4 linked regions of the Homo sapiens genome follow. The protein of the gene in region 2 purifies or fractionates together with the protein of the main gene of each other region. This does not show direct contact. Each region holds a gene or a part of one and is shown on either strand. Other genes may lie near its edges.

Region 1 (3,500 bases), on a different chromosome or scaffold from region 2:
GAACTGATAACCAACTTCACCAGTTGCGAATAGTGATAAACCCAAGATGATTTGCATTTGAATCTGAACTGCAGTTATGTTTCTGTTTAAGGCATGTTTTAGTCAGTTTACTTTTCATTTTTCATATCTTCTGTATCTTAGGGGAGGTTAATGGAATTCTTTGAGGAGTAGTTAGGAAATAGTATGGGACCATAGGAAGCTATGTAAGCTTAGCTCTCATTACTTGATACTTGATCTTTGGAGAAAAGATCTGCTTGACTAGTGACTGCTTTGGATAACTTTTTTAAACTGTGAATTTCAGTTGTCATTTACTTTGGTGGACGAAGAGAAGGAGAGAGTTGGAATTGGGCCTGGGTCCTCAGCACTAGATTGGCAAGACATATTGGATATTTGGAACTCCTCCTTAAATTGATGTTTGTGAATCCACCTGAGTTGCCAGAGCAGACTACTAAAGCTTTACCTGTGAGGTGAGTTGTACCATTTGACAGAAGAAATCTTCAATGAGATTCAGAAAAAAATATTTTTCACTTCGGAAAGTTTATAGGAGCCGGGTGTGGTGGCTCACGCTTGTAATCCCAGCACTTTGGGAGGCCAAGGTGGGCAGATCACCTGAGGTCAGGAGTTCGAGACCAGCCTGGCCAACATGGTGAAACCCCATCTCTACTAAAAATACAAAATTAGCGGGGGCGTCATGGCGCATGCCTGTAGTCCTAGCTACTTGGAAGGATGAAGCAGGAGAATCGCTTGAACCTGGGAGGCAGAGGTTGCAGTGAGCCAGGATCGCGCCATTGCACTCCAGCCTGGGCGACAAGAACGAAACTCTGTCTCAAAAAAAAAAAAAAGTTTATAGAATATAATTTCTCAATGTATGTTCCAAAAAACATTGGAACCTTTTACATACAGAAATAAAAACATGCCCTGGTCAAATACCGTGGGAAACACTTCAGATTATATATCCCTCCTGTACGTTAAAGGATCAGAGGCACCTTTCCATAAAGAAACCTGTTTAACTTTTATTTACCAAATTTTATTTAAGCATAAACCTTTTCTCCCTGTTATGTCACCTGTTACCATCTTTTGGAACACACTTTGAAGAGAGCACTGGATGGAGGAGGGGTCCAGCCACTGGCCTTGGTCCCCAGAGAGCTTCCCGCTGGAGACCTGGCCCTTCCTTATGTGAGCGGTTAACCTGGGGAAACCCAGCTCCCCTCTCTGAGCTGTGCTTTTCTCAGCTCAGGAAATATATTCACATGTCTGTCTAAAATTATTATTCATATTAAGTAGGAAATTTATGAGAAAAAAGAAAAGATGAAAAATGTTTAAGTCCAGGAATAAAGGAAAGGTAGAGGGCTCCAGAGGACAGTGAAATGAAAAAAAAAAAAAGCTAGAAAGTTAAAAGCAAAAGAAATTCAATGGAAGTAAGCAATGTAAGAATTTAAAATGTATTAAGCCAGATGTGGTGGCTCACACCTGTAATCCCAGCACTGTGGGAGGCCAAAGTGGTCAATTGCTTGAGCTCAGGAGTTCAAAACAAGCCTGGGTAAAGGCAAAACCCCATCTCTACAAAAAATAGAAAAATTAGCTGGGTGTGGTGGTGCGTGCCTGTAGTTCTAGCTGCTTGGGAGGCTGAAGTGGGAGGACTGCTTAAGCTTCGGGGGTTGAGGGTACAGTGAGCCAAGATCACGCCACCGCACTGCAGCCTAGGTGACAAAGTGAGACCCTGCTCAAAAAAAAAAAGCATTAAAAGATGAAAATTTTTTAGTTATAAGAAAAAATAAGTGTAATTTAAGATGAAAATAAATAAGCCAAACCAGGTAAAATATTAAAACTGAGTATAAGAGAAAAATAAAGGTAAAAACTTTTAAGTAACTAGCATAGAGAATTAAGTATTAAGAAAAGGATTTAAAAGTGAAAAAGTTAAAAGGAAAACAGAATAAAATAATTGGGGGAATATTTTTACAGAAAATAAGGAAACCAGTCTAAATTAATGAGGTGGTATTTTTTTTTTTCAGTTAGAACAATTAAAGTAGCATCGTCAAGACCACACAGTATATTACAGATTGTATTCTGAGAGCAATGCTTATCTACTGGACTGAGATGAGAGTTTAATTTAGAGATGGAAGGGAGAAAGGAACTAACAGAAATAATAATGATTCAGAGACTCTGAATACAAATAATTCACTTAATTTTGAAGATCAATTGTGAAGAGAATATTTTACAACTATTTCTCAATCCCTGGTAGACGTGGAAGCTATAAATAAAATAAGCCATGCTAAAACTTGAGTTTTTAAATGGTATTACTGGGCTTGAAATTCTTTAATGACTGTAATTAATATTTTTTCAGGGTTAGAGTCTCTTTCGTTGGTGTTAGAAAACTTTCTTGTGCAACTCTTGGTGGCCACATCATGACACGTGTGTCACCTTTTAACCACTATGTCGTGAGATCTGTTGGGGTGTCTTGATACTCCACATCTAAGTTCTGGCGTAACTTTCCCCCGCCTGTCCTTAGTCAGAATTACTTTATATGGCCCTGCACATTTCACTTTTGTTACTGTTTTTTCCTAAGAAAAGTATGTAAGATTTTAGAAGTGGAAGCTACCTAATTACAAATTCTTTTCCCTCCTTGGAATTTAAAAAACAATATTTTGAAAGAGACAAAAAGAAAATAAAGGGTAAGTGATGCAAAGATGACATACATTGAAGTTATTTGTTACTTTAGATAATAAAGTAATGTTTGATTTGTTCTTTTCTTCAAGGTTTTTGTTTACAGATTACAATAGACTGTCCAGTGTAGGTGGAGAAACTTCTCTGGCTGAAATGATTGCAACCCTCTCGGATGCTTGTGAAAGAGAGTTTGGCTTTTTGGCAACCAGGCTTTTTCGAGTATTCAAGACTGAAGATACTCAGGGTAGGATTTCCTTCCTTCCTTCTTTGTGTGTAAGGGATGGGGGTGGGATAGATGTTCAGTTTATTTTCATGAAAACACACCTTGAACATTAGACTCATCAGGTATTGTGACTATAATGTTAGGATTTTCTAGATCCTTGATATGTTAATTATTAAAACCATTTGTTGCATTACAGGTAAAAAGAAATGGAAAAAAACATGTTGTCTCCCATCTTTTGTCATCTTCCTTTTTATCATTGGCTGCATTATATCTGGAATTACTCTTCTGGCTATATTTAGAGTTGACCCAAAGCATCTGACTGTAAATGCTGTCCTCATATCAATCGCATCTGTAGTGGGATTGGCCTTTGTGTTGAACTGTCGTACATGGTGGCAAGTGCTGGACTCGCTCCTGAATTCCCAAAGAAAACGCCTCCATAATGCAGCCTCCAAACTGCACAAATTGAAAAGTGAAGGATTCATGAAAGTAAGCACTCATTGGTTATTAGAAAAAATTGTAATGCGAATATGTTGCCACTGCCATGCTCATTTGGGCTTTAGGAAGTACACTCTCTAAATGTTAAAGTGTTGCATTTATTTTAGTTTAATTTGTT
Region 2 (3,500 bases):
CCCTGGCTAATTTTAATTTTTGTATTTTTAGTAGAGATGGGGTTTCATCATGTTGGCCAGGCTGATCTCAAACTCCTGACCTCAAGTGATCCGCCCACCTCAGCCTCCCAAACTGCTGGAATTACAGGTGTGAGCCACCACTCCCGGCCGATTTCCGCCATTACTTTTGCACCAACCTAATAGCTTAGGAGAGGGAAGAGGCCATCTATAAGTTTTAAGTCAGGCAGTGATGTGACCCAATGTGTGTTTCTTAAAGATTATAGAGGCCATGCAGGAAAGATGGTTTATATATGGTCTGTGGTCGCTTTTGCACTACAATAGCAGAGCTGTTATATTTGCAACAGAGACCATATGGCCCATAAACCTGCAATAGTTCCTATCCGGCCATTCACTAGAAAAGGCGGGCAAGAGAGGAGGATGGGGACCAGGTGCCTGCAGGGAAGATGGAGCAGAACAGTGTTTCATCCCTGGTTTTCAGATAATTTCACAAGGTTGAAAGACATCTTAATGAAAGTGAAAGTACAAGGCACTTACCAGGAGATATTCACACCAGATGCCATGGCTCACACCTGTAATCCCAGCACTTGGGGAGGCCAAGGCAGGAGGATCACTTTCAGCCAGGAGTTTAAGACCAGCCCGGGCAACAAAGTCAGACCTCATCTTTACAAAAAAATATAATAAAAAGTTAGCTAGGCATGGTAGTACATGCCTGTAGTCCCAGCTTCTAAGGAGGCTGAGGTGAGAAGATTGTTTGAGCCCAGGAATTCAAGGCTGCAGCAGGCTATGATTGTGCCACTGCACTCCAGCCTGGGTGACAAAGGGAGACTCTCTCTCTCTCCCTCTCTCTCTCTCTATCTATATGTATACACAATATATTTGCTGTCAAAGGATTATCATCAAGAGTCTATAGAAAATATACACATCCTTGGACTAGGCACGGTGGCTCACGCCTGTAATCCCAGCACTTTGGGAAGCTGAGGCGGGCAGATCACCTGAGGTCAGGAGTTCAAGACCAGCCTGGCCAACATGGCAAACCCCGTCTCTACTAAAAATACAAAAATTAGCTGGTGTGATGGCATGCACCTGTAATCCCAGCTACTTGGGAGGCTGAGGCAGGAGAATCACTTGAACCTGGGGTGGGGGGCGGAGGTTGCAGTGAGCCAAGATCATGCCACTTACACTCCAGCCTGGGCAACTGAGCAAAACTCCGTCTCAAAAAAAAAAAAAAAAAAAAAAGAAAGAAAGAAAGAAAAGAAAAAAGAAAATATACACATCCTTTATATGTAACTGGAAAAGCACAGGCAACCCAGAAAAAAAATGGGTACATGACATGAGCCAGCATTTGGAGAAGAGGAAATACATAAGCATGTGAAGACAGGTACAGATCAGGGGAACACAAATCAAGACCATCGTAAGGTACAATTCTATACCCATGTGATTAGAAAATAATGTAAAAGTCTATGTGAGCCAAGTGCTGGAGAAGATGAGGACTGACAGGATTTCTCACACATTGCAGCCACTTTGAACACCGTGTTGGCAGTAGTTCTGAAAATTGAAACTCACGTGCCCTAAGTCCATCAGTTACCTCCTAGGGTAGTACCCAAGAGAAACGCTTGCAGGTGTTGACCAGGGACATTGACAAGAATGCTCACGATCATCCACAAAAGCAGAAACCTGGCAACAGCAGGAGAGCAGGCAAATAAACAGTTCCCGACCCACCAGCAGGAGAGTGGGTGAATAAACTACATTATAGCCAAGACAGTGAAATATTTTACAGCGATATGATATTAAATTAAAAAAAAACACCAAGTCTCCAACACTACCTATAATATTATACCCTTTAAATAAAATTTTAGGAATACATAGAGACGGAAAATAAAACTATATAAAAAAGGAAACAGGGGAGTAAGGAGCTTGGAATTCAGGTGGTAGTCACCTTGAGGGGGAGGCAAGGGGATGGGGAAGCACAGGTTAGACACAGGTGTGGTCAAGGCCTCGCTCCTATACGGGTGTGCATTCATAGCACTGGTGCTAATTACAGTATTAAAAAGTAATTCGTTAGACATAAAGTAGGGCTATGTATTGACCAATGAAGAGAATGTCTCATGTCCTAAGGATTATGGGTAATTTAATTCAGTCCACCAGGAATCCTCAAAATATGAAAAAAGAGGTACAGTAGCAAGTCCATAGTTACCGGCTGTGGCACCCTACTCCCTTCTTGGAACCTGAAACGTCCCCATTCGACTTCCTTCACTTATAGCTCAAGTCGCTGCTGGAATTGACTGCTGGAATTGATTGCTCTGCTGTGACCCTACTCTGTCTGCCCTGGGTACCCGGCCCCTCCCACGACACCACCACTGGGAGAGGAGGGGAGGGGGCCACGGATGACCATTGTACCTCAGAGGCTTGAGCTGGATGGAATTGTTTCTGTCCAGATCTGTCCCTGGCCTGACCATGGGTGGCTGGAAAAGACTATAAATGGATGGGATTCAGCTTCCTCACACTCAGCACTCCTTGAGGTCGGCAGCATCACTGGCAGTGGGGCTCAAAGTTTATATTTTCCAAGACAGAGAAGTTGAGTTGTGGCCCACCTTGAAAGCCCTAACAGCATCACAGAAGGAGAGGGTTTGGAGAGGACAGTGGCTCAAAGATTTCGGGGGAGAGGAGGGCTGCAGGATGGGGAGGAAAGGAGGGAAATTCAAAGGGGAGGAAGATGAAAGTGAAGTCGGGAGAGATGAAGCTTTGATCTGCATATTACTTACAGTATACAGGCTTCCATCTGTATAATACTTACAATAATATAGTAAGTATTATAATACTTACAATAATATAATAAGCATTATAATACTTACAATAATATAGTTGTTATTATTGTAATATAGTTGTTACTATATTATTGTAAGTATTATAATACTTACAATGATATAATATCATTATAGTAGTATTATAATACTTACTATATTATTTTATTTTATTTATTTATTTTTTTGAGATGGAGTCTCACTCTATTGCCCAGGCTGGAGTGCAGTGGCGTGATCTCGGCTCACTGCAAGCTCCACCTCTCGGGTTCACGCCATCCTCCTGCCTCAGCCTCCTGAGTAGCTGCGACTACAGGCGCCCGCCACCACACCCGGCTAGTTTTTTTTTTGTACTTTTGGTACAGACGGGGTTTCACCATGTTAGCCAGGATGGTCTCGATCTCCTGACCTCGTTATCTCCTGCCTCGGCCTCCCAAAGTGCTGGGATTACAGGCGTGAGCCACCGTGCCCGGCCAATACTTATTATATTATTAATATTTATAAATAATATACATATTTATATTATTTATTTTAATATTTTTCTTTTCTTTTTTTTTTTTTTTTTTTGAGGCAGGGTCTCACACTATTACCTAGGTTGGAGTATGGTGATATGATCTTGACCTCCCAGGCTCAAGTGATCCTCCCACCTCAGCTTCCCTAGTAGCTAGGACTACAAGCACGCACCACCATGCCCAGATATAT
Region 3 (3,500 bases), on a different chromosome or scaffold from region 2:
AATCTTTAAATTAGGATTGCAACCCCTGCTTTTTTCTGTTTTCCATTTGCTTGGTAGTTTTCCCTTCATTTCTTTATTTTGAGGCTAAGGGCATCGTTACTTGTGAGATGGGTCTCTTGAAGACAGCATGCCATTGAGTCTTGTTTTTTTATCCAGCTTGCCACTCTGTGACTTTTAAGTGGGGCATTTAGCACATTGACATTCAGGGTTAGTATTGATATGTGTGGATTTGATCCTGTCATTGTATTGTTAGCTGGTTATAATGTTGGCTTGTTTGTGTGGTTGATTTATAGTGACACTGGTCTGTGTATTTTTGTATTAGCTTATAGCAGTATTTCATTTCTGTATTTAGTGCCCCTTTATAAATGCTTATTTAAAAAGACATCACTTGCAGTTGTGATGAAACACCCCAGAAATAAATACAAACAATTGAATTTATTTGCTTTTTAAAAAAATAACTGATTCTCTATATGTAGCCCAAATTACTTCTGCTATTGCTCTACTTCAATGGTGATTTCATACTTCTCATTGTAAAAGCATCATCAATAATTATTCAGTCATTTCTCCTAATAGTGTTTACTGTGTTAATAGTTTCATCTCTCTATGAAGAAATAGTAAATAGTCATACACACACAAATACATACATACCCACATACAGTTATATTTGAGTACTTTTGTTTCTGGGAGAATTGCTGGGGAAAAGGCTGTATATGTTAATTTTAATGGATATGTTTAGACTGCTTTCCAGAAAGGCTCTAATAGAATAATACATTTCCTCCACCAATTTAGAAGTAGCCTTTTCCCTGCCAACAGTACATCTGAATTAGATTTTAAATTTGTACCCATATGATTGGTATAAAATTATATCTTGGTATTACTTAATTTGTATTTCTTTAACCTTTAGAGTGTATGAGCCTCTTTTCTTATTTGTTAGCCACGTGGGCACTCAATTGTGGATTGCCCATTTATGACCTTTTGCCTATATTTTTCTATTGGGTGGTTGTCCATTTATAAAATCTGTTTATAGCAATCTTCTGTTTATACTCTGAATTGGATACATCCTTTCCAAATCTATTATTTGTCTCTTGATTTGTTTACTCTTTTATCTTTTTTGTAACAGCATCTGGGTTTTCATTCTTATTTAGATGTCCCCTTCCTTTAAATAGTACAAGTAGATTTTAAGATTTCTTTTTGCAAAATTTTTATTGTTTTGGCTTTTAAAGTCAACTCTCTTCTCTATCTGGAATTTATTTGTGTATACAGTGTAAGAGTTTTCTTTTAAATGGATACTCAGTTGTGTAAGCATTACTTAATAAATTGTTTTCCCACTAAATTGAAATATAGACAATCCTAGACTTATAATGATTTGACTTACAATTTTTTGACTTTATGATAGTGCAAAAACAATACTGTACTTTGAATTTGGAATCTTTTCCTGGACTAGCAATATGCGGTAGGATACTCCCTCATAATGCTGGGTAACAGCAGCAAACTGCAGCTTCCACTTAGCCATATGATCATGAGGATTAAAACTGATCCTCTACAGTGTACTGTGTCACTATGTTATTTTGCCCAACTATAAGCTAATGTAAATGTTCTGAGTACACTTAAGGTAGACTAGGCTAAGCCATGAAGTTAGTTTTATTAAATGCATTTTCTAATTAAGGATGTTTTCAATATATGATAGGTTTATCAGGATGTAATCCCATAATAAGTCAACAAGCATTGGTATTTACAGATTCTCTATTCTCTTCTAGGAATTTGTCTATTCCTATGCCAGTATATACTGATTTTGTTACATTGGCAGTATAGTACATGCAAATACACACATACACACGTACACATGGGGTGGTGAAAATACTCTTATGAGGCTGAGTTTGACTATAGTAATTAAGAATGGAGTTGCTTCTCAATGTCAAGTCTCCAGTTAAAATGGTGTGTGTGTGTGTGTGTGTGTGTGTGTGTGTGTGTGTGTGTGTTTGAGATAGAATCTCACTCTGTCACCCAGGCTGGAATGCAGTGGTGTGATCTTGGCTAACCCCACCCTCCACCTCCTGGGCTCAAGTGAGTCTCATGCCTCAGCTTCCCAAGTAGTTGGGATTACATGCATGTACCACCACACGCAGCTAATTTTTGCATTTTTAGTAGAAGAAGGGTTTTGCCATTTTGCCCAGGCTGGTCTCGAACTCCTGGCCTCCAGTGATGCACCTGCCTTGGCCTCCCAAAATGCTGGGATTAGAGCCGTGAACCACTGCTCCTAGGCCTAAAATGGGATTTAATAAAGAGCCCAATGGATGGCCATCGATTCATAACTACTCTTGATGTTGCCAGATCATATTTCACCTTTGTAAAATATTGAAAAATAAATGTATACCATTTAGTGAGAGCCAGGTTTTTTTTATAGATGAGAAAGTTGATACTGTTCTAAGTGTTAATTTATTTGCCCAGTATTATTTACTTATTACATGGTAAAGTTAGGGTTACAATATTAAATTGAAGCTCTTTTTATTGTGCCAAAATGAAATATTTTATGAAAAGTACTTTGAAAACAAAGGTGTATGCAAATTGATATGATGGCTATCTCATGATCATCTCCACAATAGTAGCAACTCTGAGTTTTATTTAGAAACAATGCAATGGTTTATGTACAATAAAAGTTATAGCCAATTATTTATAACAGAACAATTATATTTTGATGTTTTCTTTCAGGATATGGTCTATGAATAAAATGTTAGAAATTAATTTTATTCTTTAAAAATCTCAATAATTGGTTCTTTTAAACATTTTTTAGAACAGAAGAAAGTTAAAAAACCAAAACCTGAATTTCCTGTATACACACCTTTAGAAACTACATATATTCAGTCTTATGATCATGGAACTTCCATAGAAGAAATTGAGGAACAAATGGATGATTGGTTGGAAAACAGGAACCGAACACAGAAAAAACAGGTAAATAAGCTTTATAAAACTTGTTTTGAGTAAAACATGTACAGAAAAGCACATAAAATACAGGGTTAGCTCACGATATAGTGCTTTGTTTTATTGCACTTCACAAATACTATTGTTTTGTTTTGTTTGAGACAGAGTCTCGCTCTGTCACCCAGGCTGGAGTGCAGTGGCGCAATCTCAGCTCACTGCAAGCTCTGCTTCCCGGGTTCATGCCATTCGCCTGCCTTAGCTTCCCAAGTAGCTGGGACTACAGGTGCCCACCACCACGCCTGGCTAATTTTTTGTGTTTTTAGTAGAGACAGGGTTTCACCGTGTTAGCCAGGATGGTTTTGATCTTCTGACCTCATGATCTGCCCCCCTCGGCCTCCCAAAGTGCTGGGATTACAGGTGTGAGCCACCGTGCCTGGCCGGTTTTTTTTTTTTTTTTTTTTTTTTTTACAAATTGAGGGTTTGTGGCAGCCCTGAATTGAGCAAGTTTACGGGCACCATTTTTCCAAAAGCATCTCCTTCCTTTGTGTCTCTATATAACATTTTGGTAATTCTTGTGGTAT
Region 4 (3,336 bases), on a different chromosome or scaffold from region 2:
AAGGAAGGAAGGAAGGAAGGTCAATAATTGGCTTTCATGGTTTGATTTCAGTCCCATACATTAAAGAAAAAAATTTTTTAAAGGTCTTAGCCCACTGGCTGTGGGTCCTGCCCCCAGGTGGTTTTCAGTCGTCTCCCTCATGATTCCAGCGGCCATAGCCATCTCGTTCCTCTGGCTCTTCGATACTCTCATTCTCAAAGGAGGCCTCTTCCTCCTCTTCTTCCCGTATTACCTTCATTAGCTCAAGGAAGCTGGGGGGCGGGCCCTGATCCTTCAGCTCCCTAAGCCGGCACCACAGCATCTGGTTAAGAGTGGCCCCAGCCATGACCTGCTCCAGGCGGACCTGGTCCGCAATACGCCGAGGGATGGCGCGTTTCTCCACCGCTCTCCGGAGCAGGGTTTCTAGCCGTAACACATAGGCTGAGACCTTCTCTCCTTCCTCCTGATAGGTCTTCAGATACCTCACCTGGGCTGTCCTGCGGCTCTCTAGGCTCCCAAACACTTGCTTAAAGGCCTCCAAACACTCTTCTACACTGATGGACGGGTTGTCTGCCTGCACTATGTGCATGAGGTCCAGGGCAGGGCCCCGCAGGCTTTCCGCCAGCCACCTTTTCTTTTCTGCCTCTGTTACTGGCCACTCTTTGACTATCTCCGTGGCCTGTTCCAACCAGACCTCAAAGGACTCTTCCTCTGGGGCTGGGACAGCACTCCCTGAGAATACTCGCAGTTTCCGGTATCTCATGGGTAGCAGGGGCTGAGGCGCATGTGCCATTGCCTGTCCCAACAAATGGGCCAGTAATTCTGGTGAGATGCAGGGCACTGTGGCTGGAGACACGCCCTCCTGCCCCAGGGCTCGAAACATACCCGAGACCGTCTGCCCCTCTTTTTCTAGAAACAGGTTCAATCTTTCAAGAAACTCAGTGTCCTGATTAGGGGTCTTAAAGATCACCTTCCAGACACCCCCCTTTCCCTGGACCTCACTGGGAATGGCCGAGACATCAGTATCTTCCAGAAGCTCTAGTAAGACAGCATTGGCATTCTCCTGCTTCCGGAATATCTTGCCAAGCAGTCTATACCTGCCCAGAGACTTTAAAGTCTCCTGAAGGACCTCCTGAATCTCAGCCTCCTCAAAGTCCGCCGGTATCCCCGTAACCATCAGTGACTTCTGCTCATCCACACTCATTATCCTGCACCAGTCCTCTAACAGTGCCAGCGCCATTGTCCTAAGAATTGACCCACTCTGACTCTACAGGCACCAATTTGTTAGTGGTGCAGCTATGCACTGACTTAATATTGAAAATATCCTGGATGAGCTTCTAACCTTAGAACCCACCAATGAATGGGTCCCAGACTAGGTCACTCAAAGACAGTCACAAAGTTTTCTGGACAAATGACCCTGGCCTACTCAGTGGCAAGAACTCAGGACTTCTTGTCTTTAGGCCTGACCCAGGTGGGCAGGTCGTATCTCAGTTCTAACCACACCTGTGCCCGCAGCTCTGAAGTCCGATTGCCAGTGATTTTCTCAAAGATGCTGGCAGCCACGTGACGCTGACCCTTCTCTGATAGTTGAGGCACCTGGGACAGCTGCTTTCTCCACAGCCTCCTGGTCTCTGATGTTTCGTCTCTCTCCAGTTGATGGGAAAATGCCTTCCACTCTGGGACCCAGAACTCTTGAAGAGAAGCCTCCCAGCAGGGCGGCTTGGACCCCTGGTGAAACAATGTTCAGTTTTACTACACAGCACTCTCTTTCCTTGGAAGCATCCATACTCTAATCTGGAATGGAACTGGGGGCAGATGGCGGTTCTGCTTTACACTGCGCTTGCATTTGTCCCACTCTGTCAGACCCCTTCTTTGCTCACTGTGACTTTTTTTTCTCTTGGGGACTCCAATGAAATCTGGTGTCCCCACCATATGCTCATCAGACCTGTTGATTAATGTCTGAGCCCCAGTTAAGGACAGGATTCAAGGTCTTTGCCATTGAAAGATGAAATCAGGAGATGTGGCTAAATACCTGTTGATGTGTTCCCGAGTGTTCCGCGAGAGGTGAGGAGCTTATTTATTCACCTTTTAGCACAGGAAGACATCACCCACCTCCACACAGTGGTGTGTCTGGCTCTTAGCTCCAGCCAAGCCAAGCTGCTCTGTTACACATAAACAATAAGAACAGGTATTTATGCTTCATTAATATTCAGTAGGAAGACCGTTAATGCACTTATTCAAAAATATGATAATCCTTCACAATACTACTCAATATTAAGTTGCTTTACCTCTTTGATTAACAAAACTAATGAGGAATCACTCAAACGTTTAAAAATAGTTTAATCTAGGTATAACAATTCAGGGAAAAAAATCTCAGGGCCGACTAAGTTAAATCGGGAATTATGAATTAATTCTCTTTTGTTGTGTCTGGAAGGCTTTGCAAACACACATTTGGGCTTTGCTTTTGCTATGAATGGTAAGTGAAATAGTTTGAAGGTTTGTCCCCTCCAAATCTCATGCTGAAATGTGATCCCCAGTGTTGGAGGTGGGGCCTGGTGGGATGTGTTTGGGTCATGAGAGTGGATCCCTTATGAATGGCTTGGTGCCATTCTTGGGGTAATGAGTGGGTTCTTGTTCTATTAGCTTCCTCGAGATCTGATTGTTAAAAACAGACTGCCACCTCCCTCCCCTCACTCTTGCTCCCTTTCTTGCCGCATCTGCTCCCTCTTTGCTTTCTGCTATGACTGGAAGCTTCCTGAGGGGTCACCAGATGCAGATGTCAGCACCATACTTCTTGTACAGCCTGCAGAACTGTGACCCAAATAAACCTCTTTTCTTTATAAATTATCCAGCCTCAGGTATTCCTTTATAGCAACACAAAATAGACTAAGACAATAAGTTACTAACACAACACTCTCCAAGCATTTGTTTCTGTTTCTGTTTTTTGAGACAGGGTCTCACTCTGTTGCCGAGGCTGGAATGCAGTGGTGTAAACACGGCTCACTGTAGTAGCCTTGATCTCTCCTGGGCTCAAGCAATCCTCCCACCTCGACCTCCTGAGTACCTGGGACCACAGGCACATGCCACCATGCCTGGCTAGTTTTTTAAATTTTGTGTAGAGACGCAGTCTCCTTACGTTGTTCAGCCTGGTCTCAAACTCCTGGGCTCAAGCAATCCTCCCGCCACAGCCTCTCACAGTGCTGAATTACACACTTGAATCACCACACCCAGCCTTTCCTAACATTTGAACTTTAACCCATCATTTGAGAAAAAAGAAAAAAGGAGGAAGCACACCTATCAAGGATTTTGTTCTGGAGAACCTGTGAGGATTAGAGAACGTAAAAAAGTTAGAGTTGG

Evidence for each region. Proteins that work in one complex are often made in the same cells at the same time.
Region 1: the proteins of EVA1C (region 2) and KIDINS220 purify together in Homo sapiens (affinity purification with mass spectrometry; 4 studies listed by BioGRID and IntAct, with this or other methods). This does not show direct contact.
Region 3: the proteins of EVA1C (region 2) and DNAJC1 purify together in Homo sapiens (affinity purification with mass spectrometry; 3 studies listed by BioGRID and IntAct, with this or other methods). This does not show direct contact.
Region 4: the proteins of EVA1C (region 2) and PNMA2 purify together in Homo sapiens (affinity purification with mass spectrometry; 4 studies listed by BioGRID and IntAct, with this or other methods). This does not show direct contact.

What each region holds. Positions count from the first base shown.
Region 1 is NC_000002.12:8,785,614-8,789,113, reverse strand, and holds part of KIDINS220 (kinase D-interacting substrate of 220 kDa), read left to right. Parts: intron 1-301; coding exon 302-467; intron 468-2,756; coding exon 2,757-2,908; intron 2,909-3,083; coding exon 3,084-3,373; intron 3,374-3,500. UniProt on the Homo sapiens protein: Promotes a prolonged MAP-kinase signaling by neurotrophins through activation of a Rap1-dependent mechanism. Provides a docking site for the CRKL-C3G complex, resulting in Rap1-dependent sustained ERK activation.
Region 2 is NC_000021.9:32,510,206-32,513,705, forward strand, and holds part of EVA1C (protein eva-1 homolog C isoform 1 precursor), read left to right. Parts: intron 1-3,500. UniProt on the Homo sapiens protein: Binds heparin.
Region 3 is NC_000010.11:21,881,731-21,885,230, reverse strand, and holds part of DNAJC1 (dnaJ homolog subfamily C member 1 precursor), read left to right. Parts: intron 1-2,791; coding exon 2,792-2,949; intron 2,950-3,500. UniProt on the Homo sapiens protein: May modulate protein synthesis.
Region 4 is NC_000008.11:26,507,537-26,510,872, forward strand, and holds part of PNMA2 (paraneoplastic antigen Ma2), read right to left. Parts: intron 2,142-3,336; 5' UTR 2,012-2,141; intron 1,708-2,011; 5' UTR 1,220-1,707; coding exon 125-1,219; 3' UTR 1-124.